Homo sapiens: one gene and its partners. The protein of the gene in region 2 purifies or fractionates together with the protein of the main gene of each other region. This does not show direct contact. Each region holds a gene or a part of one and is shown on either strand. Other genes may lie near its edges.

Region 1 (4,224 bases), on a different chromosome or scaffold from region 2:
CAGTGCCCACCTTCAGAACCTGCCCCATCAGTGTGGGTGCTAGCAGGACCTCCTTCTCCTACCTTCCCGACAGAATTAAGCTGAGAGGAAATGGGACTTCAGCTCTGACAGAAAGAGGCGCTGAGTCTTTTCCCAGGCTCTCCACGGTCCTTGGAGAACCTGTGGCCCTGGAATTTGCACTGTTGCCCTGAGATGAACCCAACTCCTCACTGAGTGCCATGTCCTGTGGCTGCCTCGACCTTGCACAGTGGGTTAGGTCTACACAGTGGCATGCCCGTGCCCCTTCCCCAGTCCCTGCACCCCTGGCAAGGGGCCCTAACCTCTGGCAAACCAAAGCAAAGGGTCAACTCCAAGAGATGGTCAACAGCAAAGGGACAGGGTATACAGGAGATGACAGAGGGCAGGGACCCTGGACTCCACACTAGGAGACTCGAGCTGCAGCTGCCACTGTGCCACCATTTAACTCCGTGGCCTTAAAAAACATCTCCAAATCTTCAGCTTCCTTATCTGTATAAAGGATTTCACTGATCTTTACACAGTTCCCATGGGCTGCTGGGAGGAGAGTATAAAATAATATATGTGATGGTGCTTTGTGGCCCCAAAGCCTGAGGAGTGTCGGGGTCTCTCACCTCAGTTAGCCTGGCAGCCATCAGCACTGTCGTGTCTTTGTGGAGTTCAGTCTTGAACTGCCTCTTATCCAGTTCTTAGCTGCGACAACTGATATAGCCCAGGAGCAATTCTCAGTGTTCTAAGCACTCACTGACTGCACCAAGAGAAAGCTAGTGTCCCGCCCCACAGAAATGCCTTCACAGCATTACAGTGTAATGGTGGGGCCCTTATCAAGAGGAAATACAAGAACCAATAAGCCGGGTGTGGTGGCTCATGCCTGTAATCCCAGCACTTTGGGGGACTGAGACGGGCAGATCACTTGAGATTAGAAGTTTGAGACCAGCATGGCCAACATGTCTTTACAAAGAAAAGCCCTGTCTCTACAAAAGAAAAAAAAAATTAGTGGGGCATGGTGGCGTATGCCTATAATCCCAGCTACCCAGGAGGTTGAGGCAGGAGAATCGCTTGAATCCAGGAGGCGGAGGTTGCAGTGAGCCAAGATCATGCCACTGCATTCCAGCCTGGGCAACAGAGCGAGACTCTGTCTCAAAAAGAAAAAGAACCAACAAATCGGCTGGGTGCAGTGGCTCATGCCTGTAATCCCAGTACTTTGAGAGGCCAAAGCAGGAGGACTGCTTGAGCCCAGGAGCTCAAGACCACTCTGATCAGTATAGTGAGAACCCGTCCCTTATACAAAATTTAAAATACAGCTGGGATGGTGACGTGCATGTGTGGTCCCAGCTACTCAGGAGGCTGAGGTGGGAGGATCACTTGAGTCTGGAGGTCAAGGCTGCAGTGAGCATGGTTGCACCACTGCACTCCAGCCTGGACGACAGAATGAGACCCTGTCTCAAAAAAAAAAAAAAAAAAAAAAAAAAAGAACCAACAACTGACTCTTCAGTTTCTAGCAGACAACTGAGAAAGATATTTCCCACTACTAAACGGTGTTCATTGACCTCTGTGAAAAGGACTTCTGGTAAACTCCTCTTGGAATTTAGCACCAGGAAAAAGCTTGCCAGGGCTCATGAACCAGCTCTATCCATACATAACCCATGGCATCTCATGTTTGCCTCCAGTGCCAGCAAGCCCTGAGCTATAGTTGAAGCTCAAATACCATGGTCTTAAATGTTCTCCAACAGTTTAACTGTACATACTTTTTACTGTAAGCTACCTCAAATCTTTCTCAGAAATAGGTGCGAGATATGTGGATAAATAAGTTAGAAGTAAATGTTGATGAGAGGCAAGTGCATAGGCTTGGGGTTTAAAAAGAAACAGCAGAAGCAGGTAGCTGTGTGCCCCTGGATAAGCCCCTTGGTCTCTGAATCTATACTTATCAGTAAAATGGGGATCCTGATGCCTGACACCTGACACCTGATGCCTGAGTTGAAATGGAAATTGGCTAACACGATGCTATTAAATCCTGGGTCTTCTTATTAAAGGCCTCAATTCCTTCCTCTCTTCTGTCATGCTGGGAGCCCCCCCAGGATTCCCGGGTAGAGGGCGCGGGTCCGGCCTTGAAGCCGGGTTCTCAGGGCCTCACTGCGGGGTCTCTGCAGCCTCGGTCGCTGGCACAAATGCTGGACTGCAGCAGCCCCTGGGGTCCCCTAGGGGACCTGGGCGCCCCTACCTTATCTCCGAGTCCTCCTTAGGGTACTTGTCCACCAGGCTGATGACGTCCAGCACCACTAGCCCCACGCACAGGATCTGCTTCTCTTCCATGAGGCTACTCCCAGAGCTTCCTGCCCGCCCGGCTGACGGGGTTCCTCCCGGCCTCTGCCTCTTATCCAGGAGGATGGTGTCCCCGCTCCCAGCTGCCCTGGCTCCTCCTCCGCGTGGGAGCTCCTCCTCCAGGGAGCCACCTGCAGCGGCCAGGGGTGCAGGGAACGAAAGGAGCAGGGCCCTTCCTCGCGACACCCGAAGACCCGAGCGGGTCTAGGAAAGCCAACCCAGAGGTCTTGGTCCCCGGTCTTCCCGTAGCAGGTTGCCTGGGCCTGCAGATGGCAACGCCTCCCACTTCTCAGCCTTAGTTTCCTCGCTTGTCAGATGGACTCACAGCTGATGCAAACCTTTTTAAAGCGCGGCTAAGCGATCTCGAGAATGCAAAGAGAAAATGCGCTACTTGCCCCGCACTCTCCTGCACCTGCGTCTCCGACTCCCGACCCGGGACACGCGAGGTACAGCTGGGCCTCGCATCTGCAGCCCTGCCTGAAGCCCGCGGTCGCGGCGGCCCCGCCCCGCCCCGCCCCGCCCCGCCCCGGTTAGTCCCAGCCGAGGCCACGCCTCCGCCGCGGAGGAGCAGGACCCGCCGGGTGGGCCGCAGCCTCACGTGGCGGGAACGCAGAGCGCCCCCTGGCGGACGCCGGCGAAACGGGCGTGACACGGGGGAGACGTCGCAGGAGCCGGGCGGGCGCCGCTTGCTGCCTGAGCCAACCCCGAGCCGCCCCGAGCCGGGCGGAGGCGGCGAACGCAGTGCGGAACCCGGGGTCCTCTCCGGAGGCCGTCGTCTCTCCCGCCCCGTGCCCTGTGCACGCCCGGCAGCCCCCGACCCCGTACCGTAGCAGAACGGTTCGTTTAGTTTTTTTTAGAAAAACCAAGTGTCTTTATTCCTCGATCGTTTAGTATGGCGGTGGGCGGCGCCCGCGCGGGGGAGCCTGGAGCCCAGGGAATCGACCTGGAGGGCCAGTGGAGGGAGCGGAGGGTGCGAGGATCGGCTCCTCCGCAGGCCGGCCCTGGAGGGGTTCTTGGGGGATCGCGCCAGGCCAAAAGTCTGCATGGGCGGCCCCGAGCCTCCCTGAGCCGGCGCGCCCCGGGCGTGGGGAGAGGCCGCTCTGGGCGCGGTGCCGCTGCGGGCCCGGGTGCGGCGCTCGCCCAGGGCTAGGTGCCCCGTCTCAGGCGAGACCCCAGGAGCCCGCCGCCCCCGCTGTCTCTTCAGCCGACGTAGACACGTCGGGCGGGACCCCAGTCTACGCGTGTTCAAGCTCTGGGTCCCCATAGAGCAGGGCCCCGCTGAAGATGGTGAGCGGCTCCTCCGAGTGCGCCAGCTGCCCCATGACCAGGTCGACGCAGACCGTGTCCCCGGCCTGCAGCGGCAGGATGAGGCTGAAGACGCCCAGGGTGCCCGGGCTGGGCTGGCTCTCGGCCACCGGCTTATTCTCCAGGCCCTCAGGCTCGTAGCCACCGGAGTCTACGCGGGCCACGCCCTGGTTGGAGCGGGACAGCACGGCCTCCACTTTCTCGTGCCGGTGCCCAGTCAGCACCGCGCTCAGCAAGTAGCGTCCAGCCAGTGGCGCTGTGAACACGCCTGGGGACAAGGATAGCAGTCAGGGGGGCCAGGGAAGCTCCGGGGAGCGCACCAGAACTCCTGGACTGAGGAGGGACCCTCTGGGTCTTTTCACCTCACTGGAATGTGAGCGGCAGGGAACTGGGGGCTTTGTTCACTATGCATTCCCAGCACTTAAAACAGTGCCTGGGCAGGAGCAGGCCCCAGTAAAGATCTGCTGAATGAATGAATGACTACTTCTTCTCCCCACTGCCTGAGAATGAATAAATGAAGAAAGAGCCGGGGTCTCCCCAAATCAGAGAATGAAGATTCACACTGTCGGAAAAGGCAAGAAT
Region 2 (3,517 bases):
CAAGTGGCTGAAGACTCGGGAAAGTTCCAGTAGAGACAACAGGAATCCCCTCCTCTCTACACGGAAGCTTACAGGAAGGAAATCCAAGAACTACAGAATTTATGCTGAGGCAGCAGAGCAAAACTGATGATACTGGAGAGCGCGGGCTCTGGTCTTTGTGTGTGTTCAAACCTGCCCTGGCCACTTACTTGCGGTTGGGATCCCAGATAAGACAATGTACCTCTGGCACAATGTCTTCATTTGCATATCAGGGCTGTTATTTCACCCCAGGCAGCTTCGGCAAGGATGAAATGAAATGCTGCACATGCCGTGTTTGGGGAAGTGGTTGGCACACAGGATGATTCCACACTGGCACTGGTAGCATTATTATGCTCGGAAGATTGCAAACATATTGATGCCACCTTAAAGCATAGGCCTTGGATTCAAGGACAGCTGCCAGTGCCCGGCAACGACAAATGCGTCAGAGTCTGACCCCTTTTAGGGGGTGGAATGGTTGGATCCAAGAGCTGCCTGGACGCCTGGGACACTCAAGGCAAACGCTCAGGTGCTCGGAATGCCTGAGCCCTTCTGAGGTCACAGGAAACAGGTGGGATCTGAAGGCAGGCCGAGCCGAGCAGCCAAGCCTTGCTCTCACCAGCAGGATCTACCAAGCACAGACTTGTGCTAGGCACCGAGCTTGCCACTGGAGACAGGAAAGAAATGGCAGACAAGGCCGCAGCTCTCTACTGGGAAAGAGAAAACAAACAAGTACCTGCTGTGTGCAGAGATAACTGGGTAGTTCTGGAGCTGGGTGCTGCAGAGAAAATACCACAGGATGGTGGGAGAGAGTGAGTGAATGGGTAAGGCCTCGCTGAAGCTCACACATGAAGGGTGAGCAGGGATGAGCCAGGTGAAGGCAGGGGATCCCAGGCAGAGGGGACCCCAAGTCAAAGGTTCTAAGGAAAGGAAGAGCCTGGAGGCCCATGTTTGGAGGGGAGGAGAACGGGAAGGGCTGGGTGGAGCCCACAGGACGTTCAGCCTTGCAGGCCATGCTGACAAATCTGGATTTATCCAGTGTAAAGGTTGGGGCCCAGGCTCTGGACTCTTAGGACCCAGTGGCCATCACCATCAATGCTGCAAAACATCCTCTCTCCTCTGAGCAGAGGGTAACTGCCTGTTTTCTCACCCTCTCCCCCAGAGAAAGGCAAGTTCTCAAGGACCGTTTCCACTCACGCTCTGCTCTCACAGATGCAACGCAGGAATTAATTCTGGGTAAATAAGTTCCCAAAATTCTCTGTGGCAAACCTGGGGGAGTTTAATTTAGCAAAGGCATTTTAAACTTACTGCAAAAGGCAAGGCCTGCCTTCTAAACATGTGTATGGAGTAACTACTACTGTCTCTAGAATTTCCTCCCTTTCTTTGAACACCATAAACAGCGACAGCGAAATGCAGTGCCCTACGCGGGTCAGTTTTCAGGGGTGAACGAGTGCCCATTACCTAGAGTTTACTGACTCACCGGGAAGGACAAGCATGAACTCCTAGACTCCATGGCTGGAGACAGGCGCACTGGCCCTAGCCAGCCCTACCTGCTTCCATGGCCTCGGGCTTCAGCCCCTGTGAAATGGTGCAGCCAGGACTCAGGCATCCCTGAAGGTTCTTCCCAGCCCTTACATTCTGTCAGGTCCTCACCCTGGACCAGAGGCAGTGTTAAAGGTCAAGGAAAAGACTGTTCTTCCTGAAGAGGGATATGATGTCCATTGAGGCCTACTCAGCTGCCAAAAGGCCAGAATAGAAAAATAAGGTTGGGAGGAAGGGCCTTAAACTCTAGCTGGCAATTAATTTATTCCTGGGTAGGTTCCTTTGATCCTATGACCAGTGGTTCTCACCCAGGAGTAACTTCATCTCCCTGGAGACACTGGTCAAAATCTGGAGACATTGTGACTGTCATGTTTGTGGGGGTGTGGAGGAAACTGTTACAGACATCTAGTGGATGGAGACCAGGGATGCTGACCAACATCCTAGGAGGCTCAGAACAGTGCCCTACCAGCAAGTGACCCAAGTCCAAATGTCAACTGAGCTGAGGGCAAGAAACCTTGCATTAATCTTGGGCAAAAAAATTGAGCTGGATCTCTAACTCACATTATACACCAAAATAAATCCCCAATAGATTAGATGGCACAAACCAGGGTGACCCCCCACCCTGGCTTCTGGGATTCACCGCCTCTCTCCCTCCCCACTCAGACTGTGGCTTTAAATGTGTACAGGCTCCTACGACCTCAGTAGGTTAGATAACTATGGAACACAAAGTCTCTTGGGTGTCAATGAAATCCCATAACCCAATGGTTCTCAAGTGGGGGCAATTCTGACATTAAGGGGACACTGGACAGTGTCTGGAGACCTTTTATCTTCTCATGACTGGGAGTGGATGGGTGGGATGACTGGGTGCTATGGCATCACATGAGTAGAGGCTAGAGGGGCTACCCAACATCCTCCAAAGCACAAGATGGCCACCACCAGCCCCAATGTCAAGAATACTGAGGTGGAAAAACCCTGGTATAACTCACAGGGTGCTTTCTCTCTACTCAGGCATCCAATTAGGAGAATCACAGCTAGAAGTAACTGACATGTATCTCCACATTCCAGTAGGTCAATTACCAGAAGTATATTCTCTCTCACACCACAATCCTCAGACTTGCGTATCATCGTTCCCATTTTACAGATGCAAGAGCTAAGGTCAGACAACTTGCCCATGTTTCTAGGGCAGAAGGCAAGACACAAACCAAGGACAGCCAATCCAGGTGCTTCCAACCATGCCACAAGTTGCCAATGGGAACCTGCTGGTCAGCTCTGGTTTAGAATTCTCCCGATGTTGGCAAGGCAGCGGAGAAACCCACACTGTACACTGAGGCTCTGCTAGCACATGCCAGTGGTTCTCAAATTTCCTGGTCTCGGGACCCTTTTCCACGCTTGTCAATGACTGAACATCCCCAAGAGCTTTTGGAAATGTGGGATGTAGCTACTACTGACACCATATTAGAAATGAAACCTAAGACAATTTCAAAATACTTAAGATTATAATAAACTCCAGAAAGGTTTAGTTAAATAACATATTTTTATGAAAAATAAGTATTTAAAAAAATCTGAGAAGAGTGGCATTATTTTACATTTTGACAAATGTCTTTAACGTCTGACTTAATAGAAGATAGCTGAATTCTCTCTCTTTTTTTTTTATTAAAGAGAGGGGCTTTGTTGCCCAGGCTGGCTTTGAACTCCTGGGCTCAAGAGATCCTCCCACCTCAGCCTCCCAAGTAGCTGGGACTGCAGGTGTTTGCCACTGTGCCCGGCCTGAATTCTCTTATCTGCTTCTATAGTTCATCTGTTGGCATATCACACATCCAATAACCTCTGGAAAAAAACTCCACTGTCCATTTTCAAGTGAATAAGAGTGAAAAAAGAGCAGATAGTGTCTTTGTGTTGTTATGAAATAGTTTTGAACTTGCAGTCCCCTTGAAAAGGTCTTGGGGACTGCAGGGCCCCG
Region 3 (3,517 bases), on a different chromosome or scaffold from region 2:
GCAGGCAGACTGCTGTGCTCAGAAGTTCAAGACTAGCCTGGGCAACATAGTGACACCTGTCTCTACCAAAAAATGCAAACCTTAGCCAGGTGTGGTGGTGCTCATCTGTATCCCCAGCTACTTGGGGCGCTGAGGTGGGAAGATCTCTTGAGCCCAGAAGGCAGAGGTTACAGTGAGCAAAGATGGAGCCAGCTGCTGCACTCCAGCCTGAGCAAGAGAGACAGATACTGCCTAAAAAAAAAAAAAAAAAAAAAAAAACCCTGCCTCCCTCTTAATTTCCTGCTTTAATCCACTCCCAGTCAGGAAATCAGAATCACCAAGCTTCTTATCCCTAGGATAGAGCCTTAGAGCATCACATATTGTGTCAATTAAAGATCTTTTATACAAGCTATTCTCCTGCCTTACAATTACAGTTTTTTATTCATTGCTATTTTCCATCTGATTAAGGTATCAGATATCTAACCAAAAACAAATGAAGATATAGGCATGGTCCTCTTTTACTCCAACAGAAGACAATTTTTAGAAAAAGTGTTTTAAGCCAAACAATTTCTTGCCCTTGGTATAAAGCAGCAGCATGCAGAAAACACTAATTACGGTTTCAATCTCAATGGAATCTAGGCTGGTCCTTAGCATCAGTCTGAGTGATAAATCCCTTATTCCAGAATACACTTAGGAAGAACTACTAAGAACATATTTTTACCTATTTCAAAGAAGAAAATGAGAAAAGGCATTGATTTTAAAAAAAGAATACATGTTACAGTTTGTACTTACTTTTTAGCAAGATCATATTCTTTAGCTTCATAATACAGCTTTGCAAAATAGAATCCTCTCAACTTCTAAAAAAAATTAAAAGTTGTTTTACGTTTCATACAGAAATATTCTCCAACATTTTTTCAAAAGTAGTAAAAATCTGCCCTAAGTTTATGTTCAAATATGCCATTTTCATTCACTTAAAAGTTTTTTTTAAAGCCTGACAAATGCATAATTCCATGTTTTATAATTTCCTATCACAAAACAAAAAATAGAGCTGGGTGCAGCGGCTCATGCCTGTAATCCCAGCACTTTGGGAGGCCGAAGTGGGCGGATCACCTGAGGTCAGGAGTTTGAGACCAGCCTGGCGTTATAACATGGTGAAACTCCGTCTCTACAAAAATAGAAAAATTAGCCAGGCATGATGGCGGGTGCCTGTAATCCCAGCTACTCGGGAGGCTAAGGCACGAGAATCAGTTGAACCCAGGAGGTGGAGGTTGCAGTGAGCCAGAGGTTGCAGTCAGCTGAGATCGTGCCATCGCACTCCAGCCTGGGCGACAGAGACTCCATCTCCCAAACATCATCATCATCGTCATCATAAATAAGCTGGGTGCAGTTGGTCACACCTTTAATTCTATTTAATTCTAGCACTTTCAGAGACCAAGGTGGGAGGCTAGCTTTGAGGCCAAGAGTTTGAAACCAGCCTGTGCAACACAACAAGATCCTGTCTCCAGGGGGAAAAAAATAGCCAGGCATAGTGGAGCATGCCTGTGTTCCTAGCTACTCAGGAGGCCAAGGAAGGAGAATCACTTGAGCCCAGGAGGTTGACACTGCCGTGAGTTATGACTGTGACACTGCACTCCAGCCTGGGTGACACAGGGAGATCCTGTCTCTAAATAATAAATACATAACATACAAAAAATAAATTCAAGAAAGCAAGACAAGCAGACAACAGAAGTTAAGAATTTTCATCAGCCTTGGAAATCTTGGAAACCCTGTGGTACCACTCTCTCACTTAACAAACAAAAGAAACCAGCTTTCTTTGGGGAGGAAAGGTATTCCAGAAATCTCTTCTCCTACCATGTGTAAGCCTCTATGGGAAAGAATAAGTAAGTACTTACGATCTATTAAGGCACTGAGGATTCCCTGTGCCTTAATAGTACATGTACTGTTCTCTCTACAGATCAGATCAGTATTTTACAGTCAAGGAGTCAAAAAGGCAGAAATAAATATTGAATTCTTCAAGTAATAAACAAGGTCCACAGCCTGGCTCCTTGGTTACGTAAACTCCAAAGTCCAAAATGCTGATGCACACCAGGCTGGGTGCGGTGGCTCACACCTGTAATCCCAGCACTTTCGGAGACTGAGGCGGGTGGATCACTTGAAGCCAAGAGTTCGAGACCAGCCTGGCCAACATGCAGAAACCTCCTTTCTACTAAAAATACAAAAATTAGCTGGGCATGGTGGCACACGCCTGTAATCCCCGCTGCTTGGGAGGCTGAGGCAAAGAATCGCCTGAACCCGGGAGGCAGCAGTGGGCCAAGACCGCACCACTGCACTCCAGCCTGGGCAACAGAATGATTCCATCTCAAAAAAAAAAAAAAAAAAAAAAAAAAAAGCTGATACAACCAGAGTATGTTCCATCCATGTGATAAAGAGTATACAGCCACTCAAACATCTTATTTTTGAAATTCCAAGACCCCAGTGAATGTCCAAAACGATGAACAGTATCAAACCAGGTTGCCATCAATCGAAACATGTTTCCTGTTTGTGTCCTCCACCCACAAATTTAATGTCTTGTCCATCTCAACAAAGCACTTATCACACACTGTGGCTGTAACTTTTGCAGTTTGGGGTGTCACAACAAAACTAGCACAAATTTCTTTTTCCTTCTTCACAATTTCATGGACAAAAGATTTGTTCTTACCGTAGATCTTAGCAACCCCAGTATACGATCTTTTTTCTTTCCTAAGTCAAAAACTCACCTCTTCACTTAAAGGAAGCACTATATGGCTTCTCTCTGGCATATGTGAACTGCCAGCATCGCTATTCTTGCTCTTTGGTGCCATTTTAAATAAAATAAGGGTTACTTGAACACAAGCACTGCAATACTCCAACAACTGATCTGATAACTGAGATGGCTAGTATGTAACTAGCGGGTGGGGAGCACATACAGCATGAATATATTGGACAAAGGGATGATTCGTGTCCTGGGTAGGACGGAGCAGGAGGCTGTGAGATTTTTATCATGTTATTCAGAACTGTTTGCAATTTAAAACTCATGAAATGTTTATTTATATAATCTTCCATTCAATATTTTTGGACCACGGGTGACGCAGGTAAGTAAAACCACGTAAGGCAATACTGTGGATAAGAAGGGACTACTGTACCAGCAACGAACAATCAGAAAAGGAAATTAAGAAAGCAATTCCATTTACAATCGCATCTAAATGAAAAAAATGCCTGGGAATAAATGTAAACAAGGAGGTGAGAGACTTGTATGCTTAAATTACAAAACGTTGCTCAATGCCAGGCTAACACCTGCAATCCCAGCACTGGCGACAGAGCAAGACTCCATCTCAAAAAAAAAAGAACTATAGCAATCTTAACAAAAATAATACACAACAGTCAGGACAGCACATAAAGGAACAAGGCTTGTTCCCCGCTTCCTTTTTTTTTTTGAGATGGAGTCTTGCTCTGTCGCCAGGCTGGAGTGCGGTGGCTCGATCTCAGCTCACTGCAACCTCTGCGTCCCGGGTACAAGCTG
Region 4 (3,517 bases), on a different chromosome or scaffold from region 2:
GCAACAAGAGTGAAACTCTGTCTCAAAAAACAAAAAAAAAACATGAAAAATACTCAACATCATTAATAATCAGAGAAATGCAAATCAAGATGACAGTGTAATAACTACTTCACATCTAGTTGGATAGCTAATATCAAAAAAGCAGAAAACAAGAGTTGGGGAAGATGTGGAGAAATTGGAACCCTAGTGTATTTCTGGTGGGAATGTAAAATGGTAAAATGGTGTAGCCCCTGTGGAAAACAATTTGGCAGTTCTCAAAAGGTTAAACGTAGAATTACCATACCATCCAGCAATTCCATTTCTAGGTATATACCCAAAAGAATTGTAAACAGGTATTCAAACAGATATCTGTATACCAGTAGTCACAGTAGCATTATTCACAATAGCCAAGAGTTAAATGTATTCTTGTCTTTTATTTTTGATGCTATTGTGAACAAATGTTTTCTTAGTTTTCTTTTTTGAATTGTTCATTGCTAGTATATAGAAATACAACTGATTTTGATGAACAACCCAAATGTTCATCAGCAGATGGATAAGCAAAATGTGGTATATATAATGGAATATTATTCAGCCTTAGAAAAGAATTAAATTTGATACATGCTACACCATGGATAAATCTCGAAAAGATTATACTAAGTAAAATAAGCCAGACAAACAAGGACAAGTATTGTATGATTCCATTATATGAGATATCTACAGCAGGAAAATTTATAGAGACAGAAAGTGGAATAGAAGTTGCCAGGGGCTAGGGAGAGACATGGCAATGGGGAGTTACTACCTAATTGGTACAAGTTCTATTTGGGATGATGAAAAAGTTCTTGAAATAGATAGAGGTGATAGTTACACAACATTGCGAATGTACTTAATGCCACCAAATTGTACATCTAAAAATGGTTAAAAAGGTCAAATTTATGTTATATTTTACCACAATAAAAATTTCCTACTAAAAATTCTCATTTTACTTCAATGAGGAAAGATTTTAAAAATAGGATGGTAACTTATTTAACTAAAATTATTGAATAGGTTATTTCCTTTGTTTTACCTGTAAAAGCTAAGTATTTTTATTATTTTTTTTTAATTTTCAGTCATAGCTGCTATGCCAGATGAGCATTTTTAAATAGTTGTCAATTGGTATATCAAAAATCTGAAGGCCTTTTATCAGTCTTTTTAATGTAAGATAAGTAAATATGATTTAGAAATTTAGTCTACTTATAATTTCTGTTATGCTTTTAATGATTGTTTTGTTTTCTCTGTAGACAGTTGAACCAACTGGAAAACGTTTCTTACTAGCTGTTGATGTCAGTGCTTCTATGAACCAAAGAGTTTTGGGTAGTATACTCAACGCTAGTACAGTTGCTGCAGCAATGTGCATGGTGAGAACACCTAAGACAATTTTGCCATTCTAAAAACATGTTTACTGTAGAGCAAAACTATAAGATTAATAATGATTAAGAATTATGTTTTCACTTTTTTCTGTCATTTCAGCTTGTCACATTTTTAATTTTATATTTAAAGATAATTGTGTAAAGCCAGAGTGTTAAGTGTGTTGAAAAAGTATGTCTAAAGAACAAGCAGAGTAGAAATTTTAATTTTTACAACAAAAGATTAAATATTAATGGATTTTTTAGGAAGTAGATAATGCTTAGATAAAATGAAAAAAAGACAAATTTTTTAAAAATTTATTTTAAAAATAATGCTTAAATTATTTAACGATTTGAAGCTTAAAAGATCTGGGAACTAATAGGAGTGTCTAGAGACTTTAGTTCTATCCTGTCAGTGAATAACAAACAGATGAATAGTAGGCAAACTTTTTAGCTTCTTTACTGGGGCTTTATTTCTTATCTAATGAAATGAGAAGAATATTTACTGTATTTGCTTCAAAGGATAGTCATGATAGCCAGTTTTTTTGTGAAAGTACTTTGAAAGCTGTACTACTGTTAATGTATAGTTCTAAAACACACTAATAAAAAGTTAAGAAATAAACATCAGTGTTTCTTTTAAACATGAAGTTGGATAAAATTCAAAATATTGTATTTCCCCCCAAATTTGCTGAAAATTACTGCCATTGAATTTTTCAGGTTGTCACACGAACAGAAAAAGATTCTTATGTAGTTGCTTTTTCCGATGAAATGGTACCATGTCCAGTGACTACAGATATGACCTTACAACAGGTTTTAATGGCTATGAGTCAGGTAAGAAACTGTGTTTTTTAAGTTTACTTAGTTAAGTTTACATAACGTGTAGAATGATTTTATATTGATGTCATGTATGGTATTAATCTGTGAGAACAAAATTTTTTTTGTCTTAATTTTTGCATGACAAGTACAAAACCGAAAATATATATGCAGGCTTTGGGAAGGCTGTATATATTGGTGCTAAACAAAATGATACTGTAAAAACTAGTATTTTTAAGGATTTATTTACTTATTTATTCATGCTTTTGTTCCGAATTAGATCCCAGCAGGTGGAACTGATTGCTCTCTTCCAATGATCTGGGCTCAGAAGACAAACACACCTGCTGATGTCTTCATTGTATTCACTGATAATGAGACCTTTGCTGGAGGTGTCCATCCTGCTATTGCTCTGAGGGAGTATCGAAAGGTAAAACAAATTCTAATACGGTTCCTCACCCAAATAATATTATTTTAATACTTGATTTTTTTTTTTTTTTTTTGGAGACAGGACCTCATTCTGTTGCCCTGGCTGGAGTGCAGTGGCTCAGTCATAGCTCACTGCAACCTCAACCTCCCAGGCTTAAGTGATTCTCCCACCACAGCCTCCCAAGTAGCTGGAACTACAGGAGCGTGCCACCATGCCCACCTAATTTTTTGTAGGAATGGGGTTTCACCATGTTGCCCAGGCTGGTCTCAAACTCCTAGGCTCAAGCGATTCTCCAGCCTTGGCTTCCCAACGTGCTGGGATTACAGCCACCACACCTGGCCATTCTTGATTCTTATTCACTTATGTGTTTCAAAAAATGTTACTACAAGTAGTTCTGTATCTTATATAGGAGCCAGTGTCCGTTATAGACTCAGCAGTACTTAAAATAAGAAAAAGTATTGATTACACACATAAAATTTATTTTAACCAGTTTCCATTGCTAAACATTACTAAGAATATCCTTTGCAAACAGTATTTTTGGTAATAATCAGAATATTTGTTTTACCTTAGCTGTAAGTTTTTTTTAATAATTCAGTGTGCTCCTTGAAAAATTGAAAGTATTAGTGAGTTTTGCAAAAGGATTACATAAAATTAAAGCTATAATCTATGCTCTATGTTTTATGGACATATCTGTGTTCTAATCAGTATCCTCCAGTTGAGCTTTCTGAAATGACATAAATCTTCACTCTCCAATGTGGGTTGCCACTAATCACATGGGACTTTTGAGCACTTAAAATATGGCTAGTGTGACTAGAAGTAGAAATAGAACTTGTTGATGAAGAGTAGTGGTTCTCAAAGTGTGGTTTCCCTACCAGCAGTCTTAGCCTCACCTGCGACCGTATTAGAAATGCAAATT
Region 5 (3,517 bases), on a different chromosome or scaffold from region 2:
AACAACCTTTGGAACTTCCAGAGACAGAGGCATCTTTGTTGTGTTAATGAGGCTACTCTAGGTGGGTTCCCAGATAGCTTCAGGATAGGGGGTAGTCACCGAAAAAGACCGACCATGTGATGAGGGTTGGAGCTTTGTGCCAGTGTGACCTCCATGAAGGAGAGTGGGGCTGGAGGTTGAGTTCCATCTTGCAGCCAATGACTTAATCAATCACATCATAAAAACTCTGGCTTAGAGGAAGATTTGGAAGCTCCGTACAATGCAGTTCATGTTTCCTTAGTTCCTTTATAACTTCCCACAGACATCACTGCATTAACCTCTACACTTGACTTGTCTTTACTTTTCTATTCTCAAACCTCAGCAACTTTTCTGAGATGTGATTTACATACAATCAAATTCACCCAACTAAAGCGTATAACTGTGGTTTTTAGTATATCCACAGTTATACAATAATCACCAGTATCCCATTTTAGAACATTTTGATCACCCCACAAAGAAATCCCGTATCTGCCAGGCACGGTGGCTAACGCCTGTAATCCCAACACTGTGGGAGGCCAAGGCAGGCAGAACACGAGGTCAAGAGATCAAGACCATCCTGGCCAACATGGTGAAACCCCATCTCTACTAAAAATACAAAAATTAGCTGGGCGTGGTGGCCGCGCACCTGTGGTCTCAGCTACTCGGGAGGCTGAGGCAGGAGAATCACTTGAACCCAGGAGGCGGAGGTTGCAGTGAGCCGTGGTCACACCACTGCACTCCAGCCTGGGCGACTGAGCAAGACTCTGTCTCAAAAAAAAAAAAGAAAGAAACCCCATATCCATCAGTAGTTTAACTGCTTGACCACACCTCTGTAACCCCTGACAACCACTAACCAACTTTCTGTTTCTAAGAATTTGCCTATTCTGGACATGAGTGGTACCCTCCAATATACATTTTTGTGTCTGGCTTCTTTTGTTTCACGGTTCATCCACGTTGTAGCATATATCAGTATTTCATTCCTTTTTATGGCTGAATAATATTCCAATTTACAGATATACCATATTTTGTTTTCCCACTTATCAACTGACAGACATTTGGGTCACTGCCATTTTCTGGCTCCTATGAATACTGTTGCTATGAACATTCTGGTACAATTTTTTTCCCATTTTGGTAAAATATACATAAAATATTTACCATTATACCCATAAGTACGTTCACGTTGTTGTGCAAACATCACCACTCTCCATCTCCAGAGCTTTTTCATCATTCCAAACTGAAACTTCTGTAGCCATTAAACAATAACTCCTCCATCCCAACTCTCCTTAGCCTGTGGTGACCACTATTCTCCTTTCCATCTTTGTGAATTTGACTATTCTAGGTACCTCATATAAGTGGAATCATACAATATTCGTCCATTTGTGCCTGGCTTATTTCACTTATAATATCTTTAGGGCTCCTCCATGTTGTAGCATTTATCAGAATTTCCTTCATTTTAATATTCCATTGTATGGATACACCATTTTGTTTATTCATCCATCGATGGTTATCTGGGTTGTTTCTGCCTTTCGGCTATTATCAATAACTCTGCTATGAATGTGGATGTATAAATATCTGCTTGAGTCCCTGCTTTCAATTCTTTTGGGTATATACCCAGAAGCGAAATTGTTGATCATATGGTAATTTGTGTTTAATTTTTTTAGGACCTGCAGTACTGTTTTTCCACAGCATGTATATGTTTTTATGTGAACATGTTTTCAGTTCTTCTGGGTTTATATGTAGGAGTGGAATTGCTTGGTCATATGGCATATGCTGAAAGTTTCTGAGGAACTACCTGTTTTCCACCATGACTTCACCATTTTACATTTCTATCACCATCTTTTAAAAATTATATCCAACAAGAGTGATTTAAACACATTTTCAAATTTCCATGAGGCACTAGGCATGGTGGTAGGCACCTGTAGTGCCAGCTACTTGGGAGGCTGAGGCAGGAGGATCGCTTGAGCTCAGGAGGTCCACGCCAGCCTCGGCAACATAGTGAGACCCTGTCTCTTAAAAAAAAAAAAAAAAAATTCATAAGGCTGAAAAATTATTCAGAATTAAAACCTAGGAGAATTTAAGATGAGAGGAACTCACTGTTAGAAAGCATTGTGGAGTATGCCTTCCCCCTGTCACCCCCTGCTGCACATCATCACCCCAAAATAATACTGGGTCCACTGCAGGGTCTAAATTGGTAAATTTTAAATGTCATTTTGATATATGAAGTCTAACAGAGAAGATCTCTATTGTGTATTACCTAAAATGCTTCCTTATACCTGAGTTGGTAGAGAATACAGTAGAGAAAGAAGGAAAATGTCTATGCCCACTTCTCACTAAAAGAAATTTAGTAAACACTGGGACTTTCCATATTCACAAATATCCAGTGAAGATCACCTATGATGAAAAGCAGCTAAATTTTCTCACTAATAATGAGAACAGTCTGTCTTATAATTTTTAGAATATACTGTTTGAATATGGACACAAAATTTCTTTTGACTCATATTGAAGTTATTATTGTATTCTTGGTACTTTATGCCATCACAGTTGCTTTAAGTGAATGATAATCAAATACAAGATTTATCTATGTTTGAATAATTATAAATCATGTTGATTTGTAGGTAATCCTTTAGAAGATGCTAAAAGTCATTTACAGATTATAACAGTGAGTAACACAGAGGCCGGAAAATACTGGTGTGACAGTGAGGTCAGAGCATTGATATGGTCTGATGAAAAAATTAAGCGAATGCTTGAAGGGGCCACAAGAAACAAGAAAATATTTGAGGAAATTGCCAGAAGATTAATTAATGCAGTTTGGGATAGACAGAGACCGGAAACAATGTCATACGAAATATAAAAATGTAAAATATGAATATAGCATTTTACAAAGAAAAAATGGCAACCCTCCAAGAAAAATGAGATTTTATGAAGAAGTTGACTGCATCCTAAGAAAACCAACTCTCAGAACTGCCAAATGGAGACATGGTAACTTTGGAATTGACATTAACAAAAAAAATTCTAGACATTCCTCTTTGCATTTTCATTTAGCAAGAGAAAAACTCTTTAAAAATGAAATCCTTACACTATTGTATGCTCAAATGACCCTTAAAAATCATTAAAAATAGGTACCTAATTTAAGCCAAGAGTTTCAACTTTTTTCTAAACCTTGTACCAAAATATTCCTAATTCTTAACTCATTCTTTATTTGTCCATCTGCTTAAGTTTTCTTATTTTAGTATACCTGAATGCTTGAAAACCATTAATGTGTTTCAAATGATGTCACATAATGATTCTTTTCCTGTGTTTTTATTTAAGAATTATTTGAAGGTCACAACAAAAGCCAAGGAACTTTGAGCTTCAAGAGAAAAGCACATGAAGATGGTAAGAGCCAGAGAAATAACAAGTTCTTCCACACAGTGGAAACAACTTGTTGCTTTTTCCTGATAACAGAGATATTTATTCCTGTCCTTGATAAATTAGACTAAATATATTGTTTATGAACTGT

The links.
Region 1: the proteins of RANBP3 (region 2) and KHK purify together in Homo sapiens (affinity purification with mass spectrometry, with the first as the bait; one large-scale study listed by BioGRID). This does not show direct contact.
Region 3: the proteins of RANBP3 (region 2) and RGPD1 fractionate together in Homo sapiens (co-fractionation; one large-scale study listed by BioGRID). This does not show direct contact.
Region 4: the proteins of RANBP3 (region 2) and RO60 fractionate together in Homo sapiens (co-fractionation; one large-scale study listed by BioGRID). This does not show direct contact.
Region 5: the proteins of RANBP3 (region 2) and PPAT fractionate together in Homo sapiens (co-fractionation; one large-scale study listed by BioGRID). This does not show direct contact.

Annotation. Positions count from the first base shown.
Region 1 is NC_000002.12:27,085,364-27,089,587, reverse strand, and holds the start of KHK (ketohexokinase), read right to left. Parts: upstream 2,817-4,224; 5' UTR 2,329-2,816; coding exon 2,237-2,328; intron 1-2,236. Other genes in the region: EMILIN1 (EMILIN-1 precursor), read right to left, coding at 3,573-3,910. UniProt on the Homo sapiens protein: Catalyzes the phosphorylation of the ketose sugar fructose to fructose-1-phosphate.
Region 2 is NC_000019.10:5,968,139-5,971,655, forward strand, and holds part of RANBP3 (ran-binding protein 3), read right to left. Parts: intron 1-3,517. UniProt on the Homo sapiens protein: Acts as a cofactor for XPO1/CRM1-mediated nuclear export, perhaps as export complex scaffolding protein. Bound to XPO1/CRM1, stabilizes the XPO1/CRM1-cargo interaction. In the absence of Ran-bound GTP prevents binding of XPO1/CRM1 to the nuclear pore complex.
Region 3 is NC_000002.12:86,948,615-86,952,131, reverse strand, and holds part of RGPD1 (RANBP2-like and GRIP domain-containing protein 1), read right to left. Parts: intron 837-3,517; coding exon 772-836; intron 1-771.
Region 4 is NC_000001.11:193,080,108-193,083,624, forward strand, and holds part of RO60 (RNA-binding protein RO60), read left to right. Parts: intron 1-1,256; coding exon 1,257-1,373; intron 1,374-2,078; coding exon 2,079-2,192; intron 2,193-2,454; coding exon 2,455-2,601; intron 2,602-3,517. UniProt on the Homo sapiens protein: RNA-binding protein that binds to misfolded non-coding RNAs, pre-5S rRNA, and several small cytoplasmic RNA molecules known as Y RNAs.
Region 5 is NC_000004.12:56,425,613-56,429,129, forward strand, and holds part of PPAT (amidophosphoribosyltransferase), read right to left. Parts: intron 3,394-3,517; coding exon of another isoform or gene 3,328-3,393; intron 1-3,327. Other genes in the region: PAICS (bifunctional phosphoribosylaminoimidazole carboxylase/phosphoribosylaminoimidazole succinocarboxamide synthetase), read left to right, coding at 3,328-3,393. UniProt on the Homo sapiens protein: Catalyzes the formation of phosphoribosylamine from phosphoribosylpyrophosphate (PRPP) and glutamine.